Homo sapiens: one gene and its partners. The protein of the gene in region 2 interacts with the protein of the main gene of each other region in a pairwise test. Each region holds a gene or a part of one and is shown on either strand. Other genes may lie near its edges. The genes, in order: PACS1, SNCA, FOXR1, MAGEC3, PRPF40A, SLC6A3 and RNF111.

Region 1 (3,973 bases), on a different chromosome or scaffold from region 2:
TGTCTTGGAAGCTAGTGGAAAAACCGGGCACCCAGGGGACAGTGGCTACCACTGCTTTCCATCTCTAAGTCAAGGGCGGGCAGGAAAAGGAACTCCACAGATGTCCCTCAGCCCTATTCCCTCCACCTGCAGAGGCAAAGACCCCACTGGCTCGGACTTCACCAACCTGGAGCAGGGGAGAGAAGCTAAGTTCTGACCTTTGATCAGAAGATGGGGAAGCCACACTCAACACGTCACTGCCTTGGGAGGTGGATTTGGGGATGGTGGGTCCTGGGGAAAAACGGGCTTTTGGTGTGGAAATGACATCTTTCCTGTTTCCGACCTCTGCCTGCCTCATGCCAGGTGAGACACCTTCATGCCTGTTTCCATGATTGAGAACATGGGAGTACGCTTCTTTCCACCTACGTTCCTGGTGGATTTTCACTGGAGTTGGGCTGCACTGTGGAAAAGGGGTTGGGCAGCTCCTGTGGCACAGTGAGGGGGCATAGAAGCCCAAGGCAGTCGGTAAGAAATCACCAATTTATTGAATGAAAAACCCAACATCAACTCAGTCCCTCCCACCCCCATCTCCTCTCTCTGGCCCAGGAGACGCTCAGGACAGCAGGGCTGAGCCCTGGGAAGGGCTGGAGGAGAGCTTGGGGGAGGTATGGAGAATGAGAAAAACACTTTCAAAATGAAGTTCTGTGCAAAAACTTCTGGGAAGGAGTGAGAGGACAAGAGAAAAGCTCCAAAGGGGCTGTGGGGCGCAGATGGCCGGGCTGGGGGGTGCAGAGGGCTGGGCTGGGGCCCTGTGTCCTCAACCACTCCTGAGAACACGGACGGTCAGGAATGAGGGGCTCAGACCCCGGGTTGGTGAGAGGGAGGTGACAGGGAGGGAAGGAGCCTGCTGGAGGGAAACCTGGCTGGGAGGATGGGTCTGGGCCCAGGCTGGGGCCTAAGGAGGGGGAAGAACAGAGCAGGGAAAGGCAGAAAAACTGACACGGTGGGAGGAGGGAGATGAATGGGAGATGAAACAGAATGTCTGAGGGGCCACAGACAGCATGTATGGTGGTGGGGGTCTGCCTCCCATCTCTCCAAGTCCAGGCAGAGCTGTGCTGGGTGAGGGGCTGGGAGGCAGAGGCAGGAGCATCATTAACAAGGGTGGAAGCCACGAAGACAGCGACCAGTGCACAGGGTGTGTCACATGGTACAACCAAGAGACTTGGCGTGCAAAGAACCAAAGAAACACTCAGGACACACACGACATCTGCAGGGAACCTGGGGGTGGTGAGGAAGTCGTGCACGGGTGGTGGGGGGAGACTGGGAGGCCCCTCTGTCCTAGAAACGCTGTGTCACCATAGCAACAGGGTCCTGGAGGCAGGGGAGCTGCCTCCTGCCCCTGTGAGCTGTGAAGTAGGGGTCCTGTGGGCTCAGGGTGCCCCCTTACCCTCCCTTGAGAAGCTCTGGGGCAGGTGGAGAACCCCATAAGAGTTGAAAGTGGCCTTGGGTCCTGCTGGAGGCAGCAGAGTGAGTGGATCTGGCAGCTGCATCCTAGAGGACACCCTGGTGGCTGGAGGGGCTGGGGGAGGACTAGGCTCTCCTGCTGGGGACCAGGATTCCAGCTTTCTCATTTCCGAGAAGGAAACTGATACCACAAGGAAGAGTTTGGAAGTCGGGTGAAGGAAGGCCTGGGGGACTCAGTCCAGGGGACTATGGGCACCAGAAGGCAAAACCAACACGCCTTGGGCCTGGAGCAGGAGGGAGAAGGGGAAAAGCGGGAAGGAGGAGGGGCTGTGCAGGGGTGGGCTGGAGGGGAGGGGAGGGAAGGCGTCCCTGTGGCAGTGTCCTTCGGGACCTGGGCGAGTGAGAGGCAGACCCTGGTGCCAGGGAAGGGGTGCTGGGCCCGGGCCTGCTGGCCTCCCCCTGCCCGCAGGCGGTGAGGCTGGTGGCAGTGCCAGGAGGGAAAGTGGCTGGGAGACAGGGCCTCAGGTGGCCTTGCTGCCACTGAAGAGTCCCACTGGAAAGTGCTTGACATGGGTGGGCCACTGGGCTGCCAGCTGGAAGAACTTGATGTCACTCCACTCGACCCCATCGATGGACACTAGGGGTGACAGGAGAGGAGGGGTGACCAGACTGCTCAGGCCATCTCCCCAGGGCCCCTTGGGAAAGGCCATTGCCTGCCTCCCTCTCCAGTCCCTTTCTTGCCCTCCTCCCGGCCCTGCCTGCCCTCGCACCTCTCAGCATAGTCTGCTGCTGCTTGGCTGAGCAGATGAGGCGGCTGATGCCTTCAATGACCTGGCTCTTAGAATCCACCTCCTTTTCTCGGGGTTTCTTGCTCAGGAAGATGGTGGGAACTGGAAAGCAAGCAAGGCCACCTGTGTCCCAGCCCCTGGGGAAGCCGCCACCCCTCTCCTCCCCAGCCGACTGTCCCCTTCTTCCTGTGGCGAGGGGAGGTGATCTGCAAACCAACCCCTCCTCCCTGGCACTGGGCTGTGGGTCAGGATCTTCAGGTTCCTGACTCAGTCCCAGCACTGGGCTGGTGACTTTGGCTAAGGTCCCACTTCTCCCCCTGGGGCTCGATATCTTCGCCTGTTCAGTGAAGACCTTGGTCCAGATGGTCTCTGAAGTCCTTTCCAGCTGGAACGTTCTAGGCAGCCTGTGGGGCAGGGGCCTGCCTCCCTATCAGGCGCATGCTCTATGCAGGAGCCAGTGCAGCATGAGTTTGTCCTCACGCTGTCCTGGGGATGCCGGGGAGTGCTCCCTGTTCCACTCCCACTCCAGAAAGGAAGCAAGGGCAGGGAGGTCACTGCTGAGCAGGCAGCTTCCCCTTGCAAGTTTCTGTGCTGCAGGCCGTGGGTTTTGGCTGTGGGCCTGGCACAGCCCCATGCCTGACCCCCCAGGGGAACTCTGCAGAGGGGAGTCACACACAGAAATAGGCACAGCTGCTTTGCAGCACCCAAAGGAGGCGGGGTTGGGGTCATGCCAGTGCTGCAGGTGCACTACCAGTTGCGGGTCCCCAGCTGGCACCAACGGTGGCAGGCGCTGCCGCAGCACTGGCCCAGCCATGGGGGTTCCTGCCTCACTCCCACGCACAGGAGCCGGGCCAGCTCCAACTCCCCTCCAGCTCCTTAAGCTACCCCTGCTATCCAGAATGGACTGTATGCCCCTTAATCCTGAAAACACAACCACGTCCTTTTGCTCATGAGGCCTCTTTGGAGAGGCCTCCAGGGCTGGGTGCAAGTTCTCTACTCCTGCGTCACAGGGACCTGGAGCTGTGATATAGAGAGGCCTCTCCCTGTCTGCAGTCCATCCCGGACAGCAGTGGCCAGAAAGGCCCCCTTCATTACACAGTGGCAGCTGCCTCAGCCCCTAAAGTACTGGAGCTCAGCAGAGAGTGACCAAGCGACTCTCTGCAGCCTCGGTTTCCTGCATGACAGAAGGAATGGCCTTGTCCCTCGAGGGGAGGTGGGACTGCCCCCTCTGCACCCCATGCCAGACCATGGGATGCTTCTTCATCCCAAATATCCCAAAAGCAGATTTATTCCCAGGCCCTGAGAGACGAGACGGGAGGCCTGGTGGCCCATGGTCTTCCCCGGCCTTGGGGGTACTTACCTTTCTTGTTCTTTTCTTTGGTGACCACAGTCATGGCCATGGTGCCAGAAAGCTGGGCCTCCCCACTATGGGGCAGGCGGGACACCTGCACTGAGCGGAAGACACTCTTGAGGGTGTTCTTCGAGCTGGCGTCCCTCTTGTCGCCTTCCCTCCTCCGCTCCCCGGGGTGGCCCAGCCAGTAGTCCACCTGGAGGCCAATCACGTCCCCATATGGGCTATTAGGGCTCCTGAGGAAAGGGAACAAAGAGGAGAGGTCAGCTCTGCCTTCAGCTCCCAACTACATAGGCCTGATGGGGTAGGGGCCATGCCAGTCCCCGGGAGGGCAGGCTGAGGAAGGCTGCAGCTCTGTTCCCTCCAGCCACACAGAGCAGCTCATGTAGGA
Region 2 (3,500 bases):
CAGATATGCTGAAATCTTTTCTTGTGGATCTACACCCAGAAGAGGGATTGCTGGGTCATATGCTACTCTATTTTTAATTTTTCTTTTATTTTTAGTGAATATGTAATAATTGTATATAATTGTGGGATCCAGAATTATATTTCCATACATGTATACAATGTGTGATAATCAAATTAGGGTAATTAACATATCCATTACCTGAAACATTTATCATTCCTTTGTGGTGGGAACAGTAAAAATTAAAAATTCTCTCTTCTAGATTTTTGAACATATGCAATAAACTATTGTTAAGTATATCACCCTACAGTACTACAGAATGCTAGAACTCATTCCTCATATTTGGCTCCAATTTCATATTCTTTAACCAACCTCTCCATATCCTCCCCTCCCTCTTACCGTTGTCAGCCTCTAATAATCATAATTCTACTCTCTACTTCTATCTCATTGTCTTTGATTTAGAATATGTTTCATAATTTAACCAAAGGTCAAATTCTTAGGTACTGCTAAGGCAAAGAACAAAGATCGCATTCCAGCTGTTAGACATTTCTTACTACTAGTCATTTTTAAGACAACATGGGGTGCAGGTGGTGAGGATGAGAGATAGAGATTGAAACATATTCTCTTAAATATCAGCTGTTCTCACTCTGCATAGTTCCAGCACAAACAAATTCCAGGTACTATGGTTAGTTAAATAACACCAGCCACTAACAACACAATTCAAATTTCTGTTACCACAGTATACCGAAAGTCATTGCATAAAGTACAAACTTTGCTGCTAACTCTTCAGCCTTCAAATCATTACATAAATAACAGAAACCCATTATAATCAGTGACAAAACCACAGCACTTCTTTCAAAGCTTTTTGGAGATTGGTTGCTTCACATCTGTTATGCAGTTCATACAGACAGCAATGCCCGGACTTGTGTGGCCACATTGTCTCCCAGTGGTGAGCCCATGTGATGTTTCACGAAAATGCGCAATCAAAAGAGGAAACTGGCCAGCAAAGATGAAAGAGTAGCAAACAAAGGAAGTGAAACATTCTGGAAGTAAAATTTGAATCAAACATAAGTTGATGTATACAGGAAGTAGCTACCCTGAGGATGTTGTCACTGCTGCAATTCAGGAGACTCTAAATATGCAGTCAGAGGAACGTAGTGAGGTGAAGGTATCCGTATAATGGGGAAAGAGGTTGTGATAAAGAGTGAAGGTGTCCCAGAGGAAGTGTTGCTGAAAAATACACCTTATGTTAAATACACTGTCAGTATATCATGACATTAAAGTGCAAATGATAACATTTTGTAAACTGATCCAAACTTAAAAAGGAGTATGATAATTCTGTAAAACATAAAAATCATGCCGATTCCATAAATTATACAGTGTGAATTACACTGAAAAATCCAACATTAGAGAGGATATGAATACAATTTTTTACAAGCATAATTTTAATAATACACATAATAATTATTTGTATTCAAGTTTAGTAATGTTCAAGGTTTGGAAGAAATTCTGATCCTGTGTAGAGACCCTAGTTTGAATGTGCTTATAGCCTATTATTACATGTGTAATGTTACATAAATTACTTAACTCGGATTTTTAATTTCATCAGCTATTTAAAATGGGCATAATATAACTATATTAAATGGCTGTTATGAAGATTAAATAAGATGATATGTAAAATGTGTTTTTTGTTTGTTTGTTTGTTTGTCTGTTTGTTTTTTTGAGACAGAGTCTTGCTCTGTTACCCAGGCTGGAGTGCAGTGGCACAATCTTGGCTCACTGCAAGTTCTGCCTCCCGAGTTCATGCCATTCTCCTGCCTCAGCCCCTCCCAAGTAGCTGGGACTACAGGCACCCGCCACCACGCCTGGCTAATTTTTTGTATTTTTGGTAGAGATGGGGTTTCACCATATTAGCCAGGATGGTCTCGATCTCCTGACCTCGTGATCTGCCCACCTCGGCCTCCCAAATTGCTGGGATTACAGGCATGAGCCACTGCGCCCAGCCTAAAATGTTTTTTTTACATAATGGGTGTTCAGCACATGTTAAAGCCTTCTCTCCATCCTTCTTCCCTTTTGTTTCATGGGTTGACTGATCTGTCTCTAGTGCTGTACTTTTAAAGCTTCTACAGTTCTGAATTCAAAATTATCTTCTCACTGGGCCCCGGTGTTATCTCATTCTTTTTTCTCCTCTGTAAGTTGACATGTGATGTGGGAACAAAGGGGATAAAGTCATTATTTTGTGCTAAAATCGTAATTGGAGAGGACCTCCTGTTAGCTGGGCTTTCTTCTATTTATTGTGGTGGTTACTGGAGTTCCTTCTTCTAGTTTTAGGATATATATATATATTTTTTTCTTTCCCTGAAGATATAATAATATATATACTTCTGAAGATTGAGATTTTTAAATTAGTTGTATTGAAAACTAGCTAATCAGCAATTTAAGGCTAGCTTGAGACTTATGTCTTGAATTTGTTTTTGTAGGCTCCAAAACCAAGGAGGGAGTGGTGCATGGTGTGGCAACAGGTAAGCTCCATTGTGCTTATATCCAAAGATGATATTTAAAGTATCTAGTGATTAGTGTGGCCCAGTATTCAAGATTCCTATGAAATTGTAAAACAATCACTGAGCATTCTAAGAACATATCAGTCTTATTGAAACTGAATTCTTTATAAAGTATTTTTAAATAGGTAAATATTGATTATAAATAAAAAATATACTTGCCAAGAATAATGAGGGCTTTGAATTGATAAGCTATGTTTAATTTATAGTAAGTGGGCATTTAAATATTCTGACCAAAAATGTATTGACAAACTGCTGACAAAAATAAAATGTGAATATTGCCATAATTTTAAAAAAAGTAAAATTTCTGTTGATTACAGTAAAATATTTTGACCTTAAATTATGTTGATTACAATATTCCTTTGATAATTCAGAGTGCATTTCAGGAAACACCCTTGGACAGTCAGTAAAATGTTTATTGTATTTATCTTTGTATTGTTATGGTATAGCTATTTGTACAAATATTATTGTGCAATTATTACATTTCTGATTATATTATTCATTTGGCCTAAATTTACCGAGAATTTGAACAAGTCAATTAGGTTTACAATCAAGAAATATCAAAAATGATGAAAAGGATGATAATCATCATCAGATGTTGAGGAAGATGAGGATGAGAGTGCCAGAAATAGAGAAATCAAAGGAGAACCAAAATTTAACAAATTAAAAGCCCACAGACTTGCTGTAATTAAGTTTTCTGTTGTAAGTACTCCACGTTTCCTGGCAGATGTGGTGAAGCAAAAGATATAATCAGAAATATAATTTATATAATCGGAAAGCATTAAACACAATAGTGCCTATACAAATAAAATGTTCCTATCACTGACTTCTAAAATGGAAATGAGGACAATGATATGGGAATCTTAATACAGTGTTGTGGATATGACTAAAAACACAGGAGTCAGATCTTCTTGGTTCAACTTCCTGCTTACTCCTTACCAGCTG
Region 3 (3,500 bases), on a different chromosome or scaffold from region 2:
TACATGCCACTGCACCCCACTAATTTTTGTATTTTTTTTTTTTCAGATGGAGTCTCGCTCTGTCGCCCAGGCTGGAGTGTAGTGGCGCGATCTTGGCTCACTGCAACCTCTGCCTCCCAGGTTCAAGTGATTCTCCTGCCTCAGCCTCCCAAGAAGCTGGGACTACAAGCGCACGCCACCACACCCGGCTAATTTTTGTATTTTTTAGTAGAGACGTGGTTTCACCATATTGGCCAGGCTGGTGTCGAACTCCTGACTCATGATCTGCCTGCCTCACCCTCCCAAAGTGCTGGGATTACAGGCTTGAGCCACCGCGCCCAGCCCAATTTTTGTATTTTTTGTATAGATGAGGGTCTATGTTGCCTGGGCTGGTCTCGAACCCCTGGGTTCAAGCAATCCTCCTGCTTCGGGCTCCCAAAGTGTTGGGATTACGGGCGTGAGCTACCATGCCTGGCCTTCCTGTATTCTTTGTCTTAGCAAGTGGCACCACCATTAATGGTTGTTCAGGACAAAAACTATTTTTGCCCCCTCACTGTCCCTATGAGTGTCATTATATTACAGATGAATCTAGGCTTTTGTTTGAGAAATGATATACTTATCGGAGAGCTCAGTAATTAGAGAGGATGCCTATTATGTTGCTAATATTCAACATAGTATTCAAAAAAGGAAAAAGTAGCAAAAGATAGAAAAATTGGGGTTTTTTTGGAGACAGGGTCTTGCTTGGTTGCCCATGCTGGAGTGCAGTGGTGTGACACCGGCTCACTGCAATCTCCACCTCCCAACTCAAGCAATCTTCCCATCTCAGCTCTTAAATAAAGAACTTAAAATACTTGAACAAAGACTTATAATACATACTATTAAGATGCCAGTTACCCTCAAAATGAATCTGTAAGTTTTATGCACATATTATAGCACAAAAATTAAAGTTTGGCCAGGTGCGGTGGCCCACACCTGTAATCCCAGCACTTTGGGAGGCCGAGGCAGGTGGATCACTTGAGGTCAGGAGTTTGAGACCAGCCTGGCCAACAAGGTGAAACCCCATCTCTACTAAAAGTACAAAAAATTAGCCGGGCTTGGTGGTGTGTACCTGTAGTCCCAGCTACTTGGGAGGCTGAGGCAGGAGAATCACTTGAACCTGGGAGGCAGAAGTTGCAGTGAGCTGAGATCGTGCCACTACACTCCAGCCTAGGTGACACAGCAAGACTCTGTCTCAAAAAAAAGTTCTAACATAGTAAAAATCACCATAAGCAAAAAACAAATAGACAAACAAACAAAATAGCAAAACTTCAATCCAAATTTCTCAGTTCTCTGATACATAGAGAGCTCCTACAAATCAATATGTAAAAGGTCAACACAAACTTAGAAATGGACAAATGATATGAATCAGCATTCACAAGGAGGGGATAACTGAATGGCTAACGAGATGATCAGCATTATTAATAATACGAAAAACACTGTAAGATAATGAGATAATCAAATTGACTGGAATTATAAAGATAATACCAAGTGTTGAGAAACATGCAAAGAGACAGAATCTCTTATTTTACTGCAGTTCTGTGTATCAACTGGAGCAGCCCTTGTTAAGAGCAATCAGGCAGGACCACAATTTACTCGACCTTACTGTCTGCTCCTGGATGTATATATTCAAGTTAATACAGGAACTTATATACTAATCAATCTCCATTGTTACTACCATCTACTGACCTCCTGGTTTAGCTGTCACTCTCCAACACTACTCCTGCCTTAAATCTTGGCTGCTGGCCAGGTGCAGCGGCTCATGCCTGTAATCCCAGCACTTTAAGAGGCTTAGGCAGGCGGATTGCTTGGGCCCAGGAGTTTGAAATCAGCCTGGGCAACATGGTGAAACCCCATCTCTATAAAAAATACAAAGATAATAATCTAGCCGAGTGTGGTGGCGTGAGCCTGTAGTCCCAGCTACTCAGGAGGCTGAAGTGGGAGGATGGCTTGAGCGGGAAAAGGGAGGTTGCAGTGAGCCAAGCTTACGCTATTGCACTCCAGCTTGGGCAACAAAGCCAGACCTTGCTTCAAAAACAAAAACATGATCTTTGCTATTTATTGAACTCTTCTCCAGCGAGTTTGACTTCTACTCTACTGTGGACACTCCCTCAGGCATAACCTAAACCAACAACTGCAACCTCTCCGTAACCTCATTTATGCACCACATAAAAACGCACCACCTCGTGTCTTTCTGGCTAACTCCCTCAACCCCAACTATGATCCCACTGAGGTCACCAGTCCACTGAATTATGGTTTTGGCGCACTCGTTTGGCAGAGGTGGATTTAGTCAGGGTTGTGGTTTGGCCAACAAAGTGCTCCAAAGCCACAGATGATCCAGGGAACCTGCGTAATATCTGACCATGGGATTCAAGTTAGTTAAATAAGGGTGGACATATCAAGTGATTGAAACAGTGAAAAGGTGATAGGATCAATGGACTGGTGATCTCATTGCGACCCAAGGATAGCACCTTTGTATGTCTGTGTCTCTCTTTGGCACAGATCCCCCATGCTTTTTCAAGGATGTTGTTCCACAAATCTTCCCCTCTCTTTCCTGTGTCACTAATTTTTTGTCTTTGTTGGGTCATTCTCATCAGCATGCAAACATGCTGTTAATTCTCCCATTTTAGGGACCAGGTGCAGTGGCTCATGCTTGTAATCTCAGCCTGCTTTGGAAAGCTGAGGCAGGAGGATCACTTGAGCCGAGGAGTTCAAGGCTGCTCAAGGCTGCTCAAGGCTGCTCAAGACTGCAGTGAGCTGTGCTGGTGCCACTGCAGTCCAGCCTGGGCACCAGATAGAGACCCTGTCTCTAAAAAAAAAAAAAAGAAGAAAGAAAAAGAAAAAGATTATCCCATCTTATTTCCTGTTGAGGCATAACACATTGCCTCTACTTCCCCTCCTTCTACTCTTAAACCCCCTTCAGTCAGGTTTTTTGTTCTACCACTTACTAAAACCACTAACCAGGGACCTCTGCTTTGTTAAGTCCAATCATCACTTACATTCCACTCATCCAACCCCTCCCTCCTTGAAAGGCTTTTTCCACTTGGTTTCCAGGATACCACAGACGCCCTAGTTTTGATTCTCAATAGTCTTTTTTGCTAGTTATCTCTCTTCTCTCCAATCTCTTTACAATGGACTGCCCCCAGGGCTCATTCTTGTTCCTCCTCTATTCTTACTCCTTAAGTTCCACCCATATACCAAAAGACCCAAAATTTACATCTGCAGTCCCCACTTCTCTCCAGAACTCCAGGCTCATGTATCCAACTGCAGACTCAATGCTTCTACTTGGATGTCTAAGGATCTCCAGCTCAGCATATCCAGAACAGAATTCCTGATCTTCCTTCCTAAACCTGTCTCCCACTCAGTACAAGGCAACTCTATCCTTCCACTAGGTCAAAACACTTTGAAGGCTCATACTCAATTGTCTGTCTTATACGCCATATCCAATCCATCAGCATAGCCAGCTGGTTCTCCCTGCTACTACC
Region 4 (3,500 bases), on a different chromosome or scaffold from region 2:
TACAGTTGCCCACATTACATTTAAAATAACCTAATTAAATGACCTTTCAATGGAATGGACTCTGGCTCTCCCAGGCTAGGAAAATGAGTGCCAGCCTAGAAGCTTCTGGGCAGCATTTCAAGGAATTATCGCCTTATTTCTCAGGAAACACTTGCAAATGATGGGTATCAATCACCTAGTCCTTGCACTGTGTTCAAGCTCACCAGTTAGAGAGCTGCAAGACAGCTTCCATTACTTCCCCACATGGAGACTCCTCTCTCCCTCATCATCCACCCAGAAGGAACTGCTCAGAGCAGTTTTCCATTGCAGGCTTTTCTCTCACCTTCTGAGAGTCTGGCCCCTGCCACCACCCAGCTTCATAACAATCAGCTCCCACAGAAGCACCTGCAGTTTCCCGAAGCCCCACACTACCTTAGCTCAGGGACTTTATACTTGAAGACTCCATCTGGAGTCTCACCTCCCCACTTTTTTGAAACTTATGATTGTAGAGAGCATCTTACCACCTTCTTGACATGGCTTCTGCTCCTAGACTCTATTGTTTTATAGGTAAGGCATAACTCTTGCTTTTCACTGTATCCCCACTATTAAGAGTCCCCTCCGCAAGCAAATGCTCACAGAATGTTAGGCAAATAAAGCCGTCAGAGATGCTTTTATTTATTAACATTTAATTTCTGCTACTTTCTTGAATGAGCTAAGCAAAGCCAGGTCTATTTCTTTAATTTTCAAGAACAACAGTATAAACGGGATAAGGAAATGTAACTATTCACCATCCTTTATTTCGTTCCACTATTTAACTGCTGAGTTCTTACATAATTTAAAGAAAATTCCTAGTACAATACCATGTTATCCTGTTATAGATCACAAAATAAGAGACAAGCTTTTTCCATTTTTTTTTACAAAATATCAAACTGTTACTCTTAAACTAGATAAACAGCAATATATGTGTGACTAATATTTATAAAATAATATTCTGAAGCTAATTCAACCTACTATTAAAAGGAAAATCATTCAAAAAGTACACAAAAGGAAACGAGGTAAATCTATCTCTCCCATATGGAACAGAAATGCAAAGAACACTGTATTGTTCCCTCAAGCCCCACCCGGGCCCTCCACTACCTAGGACCCTGACTGCCCTCTTCAAACACAGACGTAAGAAACGGCCCTATACTTCACTCAGGACAGGAGAAGTTTCTGGAGATGACACGGAACCTTGCACTGGCCATGGCAGTAGCATCATTTTTGGTGTCAATTATGGCCTGGGCTCTGTCTTCCACATCTTTCAAAGCATCCTTGGAAGAGATTGGAAAGGAACTAGAGACGGTATTGTTTCACATGACCAAAATCTCACTACTTTCCTCTTGCTAGTTTCTGAATGGGCTCTAGGACCCCACAGGAATTCATAACGTGGAGGAGCACTACTGGGCACATGTCGCTACTCCAGGTAATGTCCCTGCACTCAAACTTTAGTGACAAGCTCCCTGGGCTCCCGATAGACGAAATGCTCCCTCTGAGCACACACCCCTATTGCATTCAGCACTTCCCAGATGACCTCCTCAGATGCACAGTTGCCCTTTATGAAGATCACACTCAGAATAAGAATCAGGAGGCGGTTCTGGGGCATGCCCTGCTCATCACTCAGACTCCCCTCACAGGTGAGGTCTAATGTGTTTACAAAGACATAGAAATGGTCGGGGTCCACTTCTGTCAGGGAAATGCCAAAAAGAATCTCTATGAACTCACGGGCTTTCCTGAAGATCATAGGAAAGTAGCCCGTGTATGTGTTGATGACATTCATCTGCATCTCTGCTCTTGTGAGAGGCTCTTTTGCTTGATATTTGAGGAGAAGAAACTGCACCAACTTGTCCACCTTTTCATCCAGTGTATAAGTGAACAAGGGCTCGCTCTCTGGCAAGCTGTGCCAGGTACTTGTATCTTCATCTTATTGGCTGCTAGGCTCTTCATTGAATGGGCTTCATAAAGTGGAGGAGGAGCAGGACAGGGAACCCTGGAGAGGACCCTGGGGAGGACTCTCAGGAGGATTCTGGGGAAGAGGCAGCATCCCAGCAGACAGCTACTCCTCCTCCTCCTCATGAGCACCAAGAATCAGAGTAGAGGATGAGGAGGAGGAGGAGGAGGAAGAGGAGAAAGAGGAGGAGAAGGAGGAAGAAGAGAAGGAAGAGGAGGGGAATAATAAGTAGAAAGAGGAAGAGGAAATGGAGGAGGTTTTCTCCTCTTCCTCCTCTGTGGAATCCTGTGCATCTGCCAAGTTCTCTATCACAGTTTGGTTCTGGAAGTCTTTCTCAAAGTTGCCGCTAGGAACATTTCAAAACACAGGCATAACGTCTTCCTTAGGAGCAGGAGGTAAATGTGTGAGCAGGGATGTGGATGATGGCATCCAACAGGCCTGAGGGAGAGAGGGACACTGCAAGTGGCCTCAGCTGAGAAACTCACCCATGGTGGTTCTGACAAAGGCCGGCTTACAGCTCTTCTTCTCTTAAGGTGGTGCTCTAGGGCCTCACGGGTCACCTGCCATCCTAGGGGGTTTGTCCCCTGGGAACCTGTAGGAGGATGTGAGAAAGCACCTCGGGGCACAGCTGGCAGGCAGAGCCTGAGGCACCAGGAATGGCAGTAGGTGGCTATGGCCAGGTGCTGCCAGGTCTGCTCTGTTTGTGGGGGTAGGGCCCTTGGTACACAGTCAGGGCGTGCACTCACCTTGACTCCTGATATTGCCTGGGCCTCCTCTGCTGTGCTGACTTTAGGAAGTGTGCCTCAGACCCAGGTCTTCAACTCCTGGTTCCTGGAGCACCTGCAAGAGGAAGTGAGGGAGCCCCTCAGGCTAAAGACTGCAAGCAGAGTCTTGGGCCTCCCAAGGCTGACAGCTGGGGCTGACCAGACTCCCAGAGCCCCACAGTTCTGGACTGCATGGTCCCATCAGAATTTAATTAGCATCCTCACCTTTTCTCAGACAGGGCCATGTCCCTACCACTCTTCTAGCCAAAACTCAGGGCAAACTCCACATCCCTGAGAGCAGTGGGAGGTAGTGAGGTGGCAGCCACCTCCCAGCACTCTACCACGGGGGCAGTTGGGCTGGCCTCACATCTGTTCTGATGCACATGTGACTCCTCAGTCCTCACTCTTATCCCCAGCAGGGCCTGGGAATCTTCCCTCTGCCAACTGGAGGCAGCTCCCTGTGCTGATTTGCCACGGGACCCTCAGACCAAGGCCTTCCCTTTCCCTGCACCTCTCACCCAGCAATGAGAGGGCTGCCGCTCAGCCTGAGCTGACTGGGGAGCTCTACGAGGGCTGATATGGAGGAGCATGCTGGGAATCTCTGGGAGTCTGTCCTCTGAGGTGGCGTTTCCCCTTGTCCTTCTCAAAGTCTTCCTATTTATTCCCTAGAGAGCTGGCACCTCCTCCCTTCTTCTGTCATGAAGACGTGTCCCTCAGCCCTCGGTTACCCTCTTCCTGTCTGCGACCTACAATCTCACAGCAGGTAGAGG
Region 5 (3,500 bases), on a different chromosome or scaffold from region 2:
TGAATTATGGGGGAAAAAAAAGCAGTTTATGGCTGGGCATGGTGGCTCACACCTGTAATCCCAGCACTTTGGGAGGATGAGGCAGGAGGATCACTTGAGGCCAAGAGTTTAATATCAACGTGGGCAACATAACAAGACTCTGTCTCTACAAAAAATTTAAAAATTAGCCAGCACTTGTAACCTCAGCTACTGAGGAGGCTGAGGCAGGAGGATCACTTGAGCCTAGGATTTCAAGGCTGCAGTGAGCTATGATTGCACCGCTGCACTCCATCCTGGGTGAGACAGCAAGGCCACCCTGTCTCTCTTTTTTTTTTCTTTTTTTTTTTTTGGCACAGGGTCTCCCTCTGTCACCCAGGCTGGAGTGCAGTGACGTGATCAGGGCTCACTGCATCCTCGACCTCCTGGCCTCAAGCGATTCTCCCATCTCAGCCTCCTCCTGAGTAGCTGGGACTACAGGCACACACACCATGCCTAGCTCATTGGCCTGCCTCAGCGTGCCAAAATGCTGGGATTATAGGTGCGAGCCACTCCACCTGGCCAAGGAAAAAAGGCAATTTACAGAGAAAGAAAGTTGTCTAGGAAGTATATGAAAAGCCATTCAGCCATAATAATAAAGAAATACAAGTTAAAATAATACTGTGATTATTTTTCTAAGTGAAAGTCAAGTAGAGAAACATTTAAAAGATAACACCAGATACAAGAAAACTCTCTTTTCACTCTTAGTGAGACTATAGTAATACAACTTTTTAATAAAGCAAAGCTGTTATCTGTCAGAGTTCACGGTTTGTGTGTACTTGCATACCCTGTAGTCTAGTACATTTTATATGGCTATGCTTTATAGAGCTTTAGAAAGTGAGGTCAAGCTAAATTTCTTGACTTTAAGGGTGGCCTGAATAGTTCACCATAATCTCATTATTGAAACATGATTATCCATCTTAATATTTAAGCATGTTGCCTTCATCCATCCATCCCCTATTTTAAGTGTTCTTTTGTTTTTCGTATGTTAGTTTCCCAGAGTCAAAATAGATTTTTAACTTTTTCTGATGTTTCAAAAGTTTTAAAAGAAATCTGTATGGTGTATTTGAAGGCATGAAAATGAAATTAACATTTTGTTTTATACTTTCTCCCCCTTTTCTCTACATTTAAGATACACGAACATATATCTAATATATCAGAGACATCTTCCACATTGATAGAAATGTGTACCCATCATGTCAAATGATGGGTTATTATCATTTGATTGTGCATAAATGGAAGTGCTCCTCTATCAATAGATATTTAGGCTTTTTGGAATAACTTTATTTTGCGTCTTGTCATACTGAAAGTTTTCTTCAATGTTTTCCATAAGTTTAACATTAAACAGTTGTTTCCTGCTTTTTTTCATTCCAGCATTTCCTTGGTATAGTGTCTGAGTCATAATACGCTTTTGATTTTAATTACTATAACAGAGATCATTTTTTGTCAGTATCTACTACAGTGTCTCTTCGCCTAAGCGTTCTACTTATTTTTTTTTCATTCCCTGGCCCCCACCCATGCATTCCCTTATTATGTAGAAAGAAATGTAAGGCTTCTACCATTTTTTTCTCATCAGGAAAACCCCCAATTATTAAACAAGTTAGTAATTCTGGGTAGTTGTAATTTTTGTTTGACATCAGTGTTCAGCAAACTTTCATGAAATATTAGATTGGAAATATTTTTGGATTATTTGTGTCATACAGTCTTTATATGGTGACTCAATTCAGCTGTGGTAGCACAGTCAGCGATAATGTGTAAACAAATGAACGCGGGCATTTTCAAGTAAAACTATAATTACAAAAATTAATAGGCTGAATTTGTCTAGTGGGTTGTAGTTTGTCAATCCTGATTTAGATTGATCCTTACATCTTATTTATCTTCACACTTGCCCAAATCCTTAGAGTTATTATAGCACTAATGTGAAACCACTGAATGAGTTTAATAAGCCATTTAAAACTATTAACCTATGGGCCAGAGGAGCTAGTGTTTTAAGTCAGTTAAATGTTTATTTTGTCATTTGTCCAGGGTCTTAAAAACTGATTTAATAACTGAACTTTTAGGAAACGATTATCTTTATTTCTTTGTCTTCAGATAAGTGTGTTTTTAGAGTTCATATAGCTTTTATTCTAAATGTCAAATTTTATTTCAACATCAAACATTTAAACAATTTAGACATTATTTTTCTAAATGAAGCAAAAATTTATTTAATTGATAAATACCACATTTGAATTTCTCTCTAGTTTTACTCCCAAAAAAGAAGAGGAGGAGAGCCAACCAGCAAAGAAAACATACACTTGGAATACAAAGGAAGAGGCAAAGCAAGCTTTTAAAGAATTATTGAAAGAAAAGGTATTAATATTGCAGATTTTTATTGTTTCTTAGCTTTTTGACATCAAGCATGTATTATGGATTTTTATGTGATGTGTAATAATTACCCAACAAATGACGTTACTCTTTAATTAAACCTTGATGGTATTGATAATACCAATCTCATGAACTGTTGTAACTGAAAAGCAACTAAATATGTCTTTTTTTTTTTTTTTGAAGTACACTTTTGTGAAACTTTCAACACAAAAACTATTGTGTACAAGGTACTACACAAGCACATTTCTACCCAATATTTAATGTAAGGGTTTTTTTTTAATTCATAATAGTTATCTTTTATCCATAGTCTAAGAAAAAAGCATTTATGTTCTATTTAAATTTCAGTTAAAGTTTTCATTTTAGTTCATAGGTGTATTACACAGATTTGCCTTCAGTAAAAAACTATTTTTTATAACTTGTTTCAAACTCCTGCAAAGGGAAATGCTTGATGTTTGCAGTTAGTATTATACTCAGTTTCCTATTATGTGACTTAAACTATTCTTGTGTGAAATTTTAATTTTTCATTTAAATTATTTTCAGCGGGTACCATCGAATGCTTCATGGGAGCAGGCTATGAAAATGATTATTAATGATCCACGATACAGGTAGTACTTCAACTTTTTATTTACTTTTCACTTTGAGCATATAGCAGGCCTAGCACATTTAAAGTTGTGTAGAAAGATAAAACATTTAACTGTTGACTTCTGTTTAGGATACCAAGTATAGAGTTGTTTTATGTCTAATAACCAAAAAGTCAAAGGCTTATCAAACAATTTGAGTACTCCGCTACATATAAAATAATAATTATTTTAAAAGTAGAAATTACTTTCTACAATCATTTGTAATAAATTTTTGAAAATTTTTAAATTATATGTGTAAACAGTTTTATTTTTTTTTTCAAACCACTAATATTTGATTCTTTTGCCTGTGTTTACTCTTACATGGTATTTTTATATTAGTGCTTTGGCAAAGTTAAGTGAAAAAAAGCAAGCCTTTAATGCCTATAAAGTCCAGACAGAAAAAGAAGAAAAAGAAGAAGCAAGATCAAAGTACAAAGAGGCTAAGGAATCCTTTCAGCGTTTTCTTGAAAATCATGAGAAAATGACTTCTACAACCAGATA
Region 6 (3,500 bases), on a different chromosome or scaffold from region 2:
AAGGAAGGGCTGAGTGTACCCTGGGTCCTTCCAGAGCCACTGCTTTTGTTTCCTGCCCTGCACCACAGATTGGCAGGGCCACCATGGGAGCATGACATCACCATGGCCACTGTGCATGACATCACCACTGGCCACACTGGCTGATGCGGCTCCCAGAGCAAATGGGCCTGCTCTGATCCATGGGACAGTGCAGCCCCCACACCAGAGTCCCCCTTACCAAGAGGACCCCTCCTGGTTGAGGATGCTTCCCTGGGCACCTGGGTGAGGAAATGGCTCCCTTGAACAGTGGTGGCCAGTCCCCTCCTGGATGCTTCCCTGGGCACCTGGGTGAGGAAATGGCTCCCTTGAACGGTGGTGGCCAGTCCCCTCCTGGATGCTTCCCTGGGCACCTGGGTGAGGAAATGGCTCCCTTGAACGGTGGTGGCCAGTCCCCTCCTGGATGCTTCCCTGGGCACCTGGGTGAGGAAACAGCCTTGAACGGTGGTGGCCAGTCCCCTCCTGGATGCTTCCCTGGGCACCTCGGTGAGGAAATGGCTCCCTTGAACAGTGGTGGCCAGTCCCCTCCTGGATGCTTCCCTGGGCACCTGGGTGAGGAAATGGCTCCCTTGAACGGTGGTGGCCAGTCCCCTCCTGGATGCTTCCCTGGGCACCTGGGTGAGGAAATGGCTCCCTTGAACGGTAGTGGCCACTGTCAGCACTGGCCAGGCATTCGGTTGCTCCAAGCCCTGCCCTTCAGGAAGGCAGAGCCCGTGACCTGGGCCACTGACGTGTAGCCCCTCACCAACCAGCCAACTTCACCACGAGCTCCTCAAGCTCACCGAAGGCCCAGACGCAGGAAACCCACTACCCTGTTGGCTACAGAACCTTCTAGTGATCTCTGCTCATGACATCACTGTGGGCTCCAGATGAAGCTTCACCTGACACATTTCTTAAACACCATTTAGTGACACGGGAGACTGTCTCCCCAAGGAGGTGGCAGGCAAAGTCCCTGCTCGCGTTTCCAGGGAAAACATTCATGAGAACATGGCGCTTCCCTTCCCTCCTGTCTGACTCCCAGGAAGCTCGGCGCTAAGTGTGAATTTCAAGCATAGCTTTTAAGGCCCATTTCCTTAAATTTATTTTTGCTTAGTATCTTTTTCTTTATATTAACCTTGTGTGTAGTTTGTTTTGTGTTTGAGAAATCACACTAAAATATGACTGACTATAAAATATTTTATATTCAATACAATCGAATGGTGGGGTTTCCAGGGCGTCTGTAAAATGGGGTTGCCCTTGGCAATGAAACCGAAACCTGACAAACAGAAGCTGGCTGAGGGTCGTGCCTGCAAATGGTGCTTCGCCCACCAGAGCACGGCCACCCTGCCCCACCCCTGAACACCAGTACACCCCAGGGCACCCACGAGAGCTGGCTTCAGGAGAGGGTGTTGTCAACGCATGCACGGATCCCGCTGGAGGAAGCCTCTGGTGGAGCAGCCCCTCCATACCTCACAGGAGGCATCAAGCAGGTCTTTGGAAGAAAGACGGGAGAGGGCCGGGCACGGTGGCTCACTCCTGTAATCCCAGCACTTTGGGAGGCCAAGGCAGGCGGATCATGAGGTCAGGCAATCGAGACCATCCTGGCTAACACGATGAAACCCCGTCTCTACTAAAAATACAAAAAATTAGCGGGGCGTGGTGGCACGCACCTGTAGCCCCAGCTACTCGGGAGGCTGGGGCAGGAGAATCGCTTGAACCCGGGACGCGCAGGTGACAGTGAGCCAAGATCGCGCCTTTGCACTCCAGCCTGGTGACAGAGCGAGATTCCGTCTCACAAAAAAAAAAAAAAAGAAAAGAAAAGAAAAGAAAGAGGGGAGAGGACGCCTCTCTGTGTCAGTCTGGGTGTCTTTAGTATGTGCTTGCTGTGTGTGCATGTACCCGAGAGACAGAGAGGAGAAGAGACAGAACAGGAGAGAGACAGAGAGGAGAAGAGACAGAACAGGAGAGACACAGAGAGGAAAGGAGGGAGAGAGACAGAAAGAGACACAGGGAGAGGGAAAGAGAGCGAGGGGAAGGGAGGAGACGGAGAGTTTTAAAGACCCACCTCTCAGGACCCTGGGGTGCACTGCGGGGCTGAAGGCCCCAGAGGCCCCTCTGGCTGTGGTGCCCATCCCAAGCTGCTCTGGTGAGACTACGGGAAATGCACGTGAGTCATGGCTGCTGAGCAGCTGGGCCTCACCATGAACTCCGCCCTCTGGCTTTCAAGGGTGGATCTTGGCTCCCAGTTAGGAGCAGGGAGCAGCTCGCAGGTCTGCAGGAGGGGAAGGGCCAGGAACAACCAGGCTTCCTGGAGAGCTGGCTTCATTCCCCCATGGAATTGCCACCTGCTCAGGGCTGGATGGCCTTTTAGCTCCACAATGATTGTTGTGGGCACTTTAGCTGATGTCTTAATTTACCACGTGGCACTTCTATTCAATGAGACATGAAAACGTATGCATTTTTATTAACCAGATTTTTAAAAAGGACAAAGGCACATGTATCAGGGTGCCGGGGGTGCATGGTGTACATCTGATTTCATAAGCAATGTCAGTCTCCTCTAAACTGGCATCCTGCGCTTGACAGGTAGGCAGAACAAACGGGACGCTGGCACCGGAACCTGCAGCGTTACTGAGATTCAACAACTCAAGGTGTCTCGTCTCTAAAAAGAAGTCCAGCTTTCTTGCACTGATTCATCTATCCCTTCGTGGGTCGAACAGTTCACTTTCTGTGATTTGCAATTTTCCTTCCTCACCAGGACTAGGTGAGTGTGAACAAGCTCTTCCAAAGATCCGCCCGCAGGGCCACGAGCCTTCCTTCCTGCGGCCACACTTTGCAGCCCTCCTCTGGGACTAGTCTTCAGAACGAAGCTGGCGGCATGGAATGCGGGATTGTGGGCACAGGGTCTGTGACACAGAGGAGACGACTGCCCAGCTTACCCCGGCTGCGCATTGTGGAGAACACGATGATATGCCCACATCCGCCGGCTGCATTTCTTCAGAACGAGGTGCCACTGCTCACGCTGATGGAAGTCAGAGGTTCTCTACTAGCCCAAGTTGAGTTGGTGCTCTGAAATTCTTAGAAATTGCTTCTTGACATTTTATGGACTACACCATGAAGACCCACAACGGCAGCTTTGTTGGTGAACATCCTTTCTGTGTGACAGACGGAAGGAAATGAGCTCTTATCTGCGGACCTACAGGTCCCTTTTTCTCCTGCCCTCCTCACCTGAATCCTGCACGTGAAGAGGTGATTTAACTTGCTCCAACACCAGGCTCACTGGCGGGAGTGGGGCACAGGGCTGTGCCTTGTAAGACACTTGTGACAGACTCCAGGGTGGCTCTTGAAAATCCAGCAAAGCACAGTTGGATGTCGCTGCAGCCTGTGCCAGAGCACAATGTCATCTTTCCTCAGTTTCCCCTACCCCAGTGGGCCGGCTTCATCTCTGACTCAGCATCCCAAGGCTCTGAGCCCTCAGATACTCTCCA
Region 7 (3,500 bases), on a different chromosome or scaffold from region 2:
TATACAGTTGCTGCAAACACTGAATTAGCAAATATGGGACCCTTGCAAACCTCTGTTCACAACTAATCAGTGTATAACCTTTTTTATGTGTGTTTCTGCTTAAAGACAACTTTAAAAAATATTGTAGAATCATTAACATTGAACTCATAGCCAACAACACTGTAACTCATGCGTGAATGAAACTTATTCTCTCCATAAGGTGTATGACAGCCTTCTTTGCTTAGGAACACTAGACAGCACTTCAGCTCTATGCTTGGGTGCCATTTTAAACAACACAATCACCAACAAAAAGCACAAAACTGTGAAAAACGTGGCACTAAACAGTCTGCAAACAAGACACTGGTTTATAGTAGGAGCTCAAATACGGCAGAGCCCTGTTCTACCTCAGCTGGGAACAGAGTTGCATGTTGGGCAACTGCAATTTTTTGCCACCGGTCATATCCACGAATGACTCTGAAAGCACAAGTGTTGATTATGGGGTTACAAGTAAATTTTAGCCTGTGGGTCAGTTCACACATATGTAATCCATAAATAATGAAGATTGACTGTAACTAACAAAAAATTAGAAAACAGTGTTAAAAGTTTCCCTAATAGAATCAAGCAAAAAAGGCATAGGGTACTTTGGCTGTTAGGAAGCTTAACAGAAGTGAAGTAAAAAACTTATCTTGAAGTCGAATTTTGTTGGAAAATTGTGTGCATTTTTTGTTGTTGTTTTAATAAAGCTCTCTGAAATGGACAGGATCTTAAGACAATTTTACTCTTTTCAAGTTTGAGCTACTAAGAGCCTCAGGCTTAAGTTTGGGCATTTTGGAGAGTTAGGTTATATTTTAACAGAAACCTAAACCTGTTACAGAATGCTTAGTTGGAGTTATGTATTCTTATTGAAGTCAAATTTTATGAGCAGTTGAATTGAAAACATTGAGGGTCTTGAATTATTCAATGTTAACAGTAAATCACAAGTCTATTCTTAAAATTGATTTAGCCTATCTCTTCTGTTGAAATAGGTTCCTGATATGGCAGGCTATCCTCACATCCGTTACATTTCATCAGGATTGGATGGAACATCATTCAGAGGTCCTTTCAGGGGCAATTTTGAGGTATGTAATAAAATAAATGAATATGTTTGTCACAGTATCTTTAATGCAGATTGAGTATATATATACTACTATACACAATTGTGTAGGACTGCTACAGTGGCTGGGAATCACATGTGATTTTCTGATGTTGCTTCTGGGAGTTACAGAAATATTTGTAAGTATTATTAATCTTAGGGTCAAAAGTTACCGAAATATTTAAAGATGAGTAAATGAAAATATCTAATATAGAAGAATATAAAAATGTATTAAATCAATATAAATGTCAGATATATAACTATACCATTAAATGTGGTGGGGAACGGAATGTTTTTGACTCAGCTAAATTTTTAGAGAAATCGGTAGAGAAAAAGAAACTTAAGTAATTCCCTTTGTAGCTAAATGTCTTGTTTGAATTTTCAGGAAGAACAAATCATTCGAATGGGATTTAAAGTTTTGTTGTGGTTTGTTTTTTTGTTTGTTTGTTTGTTTGTTTGTTGTTGTTGTTTTTTTAGATGGAGTCTTGCTCTGTCACCCAGACTGGAGTGCAGTTGCACAATCTCAGCTCACTGCAACCTGCGCCTCCTGGGTTCAAGCAATTCTCCTGCCTCGGCTTCCTGAGTAGCTGGGATTACAGGTGCCCGCCACCACGCCCGGCTAATTTTTGTATTTTTAGTAGAGATAGTGTTTTGCCATGTTGGCCAGGCTGCTCTTGAACTCCTGACCTCAAGTGATCCACCCACCTTGGCCTCCCAAAGTACTGGGATTACAGGCGCAAGCCACCGCACCCGGCCCCCGTTGTGTTTTTTTTATGTCAGTTTGGAAGTTGGAGTCATTGTGACTTAGAACTATTGTTTGATTTGGTTCCTTAATTTACTAGAATTATTTCATCTTCTCCATACATACATACATACTGACTTACATAGTACCATGTGATAATATTGTTGTAATTTATAAAGATAACTTTTGCTGTACCATTTCAGTTGGCTGAGGAAAACATGATAAACAACCATTTGCCTTACTGTCTATGAGAAACATTAAGTCAGGCATGGTGGCTCACACCTGTAATCTCAGCAGTTTAGGAGGCCGAGGTGGGAGGATCACTTGAGGCCAGGAGTTTGAGACCAGCCTGGGCAACATATAAACTGTTTTATATATATACTTATATATAAGTAACCACTTGTCATGTGTAAGTTTTTTTGAACACTGTATTTATATTGCAAGTTTCTAAGTATGGAGGTTTATTTCTTATACAATGTTGACAGTTCTGTTCAAGGAATAATCATCTTGGCTTTTACCAGTCATTATATTCTTCACTTTCAGGAACTGATTCATTTGGAAGAAAGATTAGGCAATGTCAATCGTGGAGCATCCCAGGGGACAATTGAAAGATGTACATATCCACATAAATACAAAAAGGTAAGAATTTATTCTATGAAACTTCTGGAGTGTTACTGAAAGGCATAAATGTAATATATACCTTTTTTGAATTTGTAGACTCTAGCAATGACATTTTTATTGAAGTAATGCATACATATTGTTTAAAAATTTTGGAAAGTATAAAAAATATATACTTTGCAGTTTTTTACTCTGCAGACCCTAGTCCTTCTTCCCAGAAGTGAAATCATAGTTAAGGATTTAGATATTCTTCTAGATATTTTTTAGCATTTTCTAATAATGTGCATATGTATATATATTTTTGTCTACTTTAAAAAAAACACAAAAGGAGATGATTACCACATAGTTTGCAGATTGCCTTTCATGCCAATTAGCTCCCACAGATCACCCTTATTATTTTTAATAGCTTATGCAGAATTCCATCATATGGCAGTACTGTAATTTTTTTAACTAGCAATTTATTTTGACGGACATTTTATTGATGTATGTTTCTTCTACTCTACCCTCAGTTGCTTGTATAGCATTATACAGTTATGGGGTAGACATGTTAAATACGTGTCTTAAACCATGCTCAATACCAACGGTCCCCAACCTTTTTGACACCAGGGACCAGTTTTCATGGAAGACAATTTTTCATGGATAGGTGGCAGAGGGGATAGTTTCAGAATGAAACTATTCCACCTCAGATTATCAGGCATTAGTTAGATTCTCTTAAGGAGCATGCAACCTAGATCCCTCACATGCACAGTTTACAATAGGGTTCACGCTTCTATGAGAATCTATCGCTGCTGCTGATCTGACAGGAGGAAGAGCTCCAGCAGTGATGCTCGCTCACCTGCCACTCACCTCCTGCTGTGCAGCCAGGTACTGGTTTGCAGCCCAGGGGTTGGAGACTCCTTTATACTATGTAAAGAATAATCATAAAGTGTGAAAATTACTATTCTCTGTATTTTTCATCTATTTTCAAAGAGTATTGAGGTATTACCAGTACATTCAAGTTTTCAACTGTCCAAGTTAAATACTGTAACT

What was found.
Region 1: the proteins of SNCA (region 2) and PACS1 interact in binary tests that used the Homo sapiens proteins (3 or more experiments, as listed by UniProt).
Region 3: the proteins of SNCA (region 2) and FOXR1 interact in binary tests that used the Homo sapiens proteins (3 or more experiments, as listed by UniProt).
Region 4: the proteins of SNCA (region 2) and MAGEC3 interact in binary tests that used the Homo sapiens proteins (3 or more experiments, as listed by UniProt).
Region 5: the proteins of SNCA (region 2) and PRPF40A interact in binary tests that used the Homo sapiens proteins (3 or more experiments, as listed by UniProt).
Region 6: the proteins of SNCA (region 2) and SLC6A3 interact in binary tests that used the Homo sapiens proteins (3 or more experiments, as listed by UniProt).
Region 7: the proteins of SNCA (region 2) and RNF111 interact in binary tests that used the Homo sapiens proteins (3 or more experiments, as listed by UniProt).

What each region holds. Positions count from the first base shown.
Region 1 is NC_000011.10:66,241,272-66,245,244, reverse strand, and holds the end of PACS1 (phosphofurin acidic cluster sorting protein 1), read right to left. Parts: intron 3,819-3,973; coding exon 3,592-3,818; intron 2,334-3,591; coding exon 2,214-2,333; intron 2,081-2,213; coding exon 1,965-2,080; 3' UTR 501-1,964; downstream 1-500. Other genes in the region: uncharacterized protein LOC124902694, read left to right, coding at 133-196. UniProt on the Homo sapiens protein: Coat protein that is involved in the localization of trans-Golgi network (TGN) membrane proteins that contain acidic cluster sorting motifs.
Region 2 is NC_000004.12:89,827,162-89,830,661, reverse strand, and holds part of SNCA (alpha-synuclein), read left to right. Parts: intron 1-2,477; coding exon 2,478-2,519; intron 2,520-3,500. UniProt on the Homo sapiens protein: Neuronal protein that plays several roles in synaptic activity such as regulation of synaptic vesicle trafficking and subsequent neurotransmitter release.
Region 3 is NC_000011.10:118,974,761-118,978,260, reverse strand, and holds part of FOXR1 (forkhead box protein R1), read right to left. Parts: intron 1-3,500. UniProt on the Homo sapiens protein: Transcription factor which acts as both an activator and a repressor.
Region 4 is NC_000023.11:141,879,816-141,883,315, reverse strand, and holds part of MAGEC3 (melanoma-associated antigen C3), read right to left. Parts: intron 1,914-3,500; coding exon 1,520-1,913; intron 1-1,519.
Region 5 is NC_000002.12:152,672,462-152,675,961, reverse strand, and holds part of PRPF40A (pre-mRNA-processing factor 40 homolog A), read left to right. Parts: intron 1-2,255; coding exon 2,256-2,364; intron 2,365-2,919; coding exon 2,920-2,984; intron 2,985-3,338; coding exon 3,339-3,500.
Region 6 is NC_000005.10:1,435,441-1,438,940, forward strand, and holds part of SLC6A3 (sodium-dependent dopamine transporter), read right to left. Parts: intron 1-3,500. UniProt on the Homo sapiens protein: Mediates sodium- and chloride-dependent transport of dopamine. Also mediates sodium- and chloride-dependent transport of norepinephrine (also known as noradrenaline). Regulator of light-dependent retinal hyaloid vessel regression, downstream of OPN5 signaling.
Region 7 is NC_000015.10:59,088,663-59,092,162, forward strand, and holds part of RNF111 (E3 ubiquitin-protein ligase Arkadia), read left to right. Parts: intron 1-1,004; coding exon 1,005-1,097; intron 1,098-2,396; coding exon 2,397-2,492; intron 2,493-3,500. UniProt on the Homo sapiens protein: E3 ubiquitin-protein ligase. Required for mesoderm patterning during embryonic development. Acts as an enhancer of the transcriptional responses of the SMAD2/SMAD3 effectors, which are activated downstream of BMP.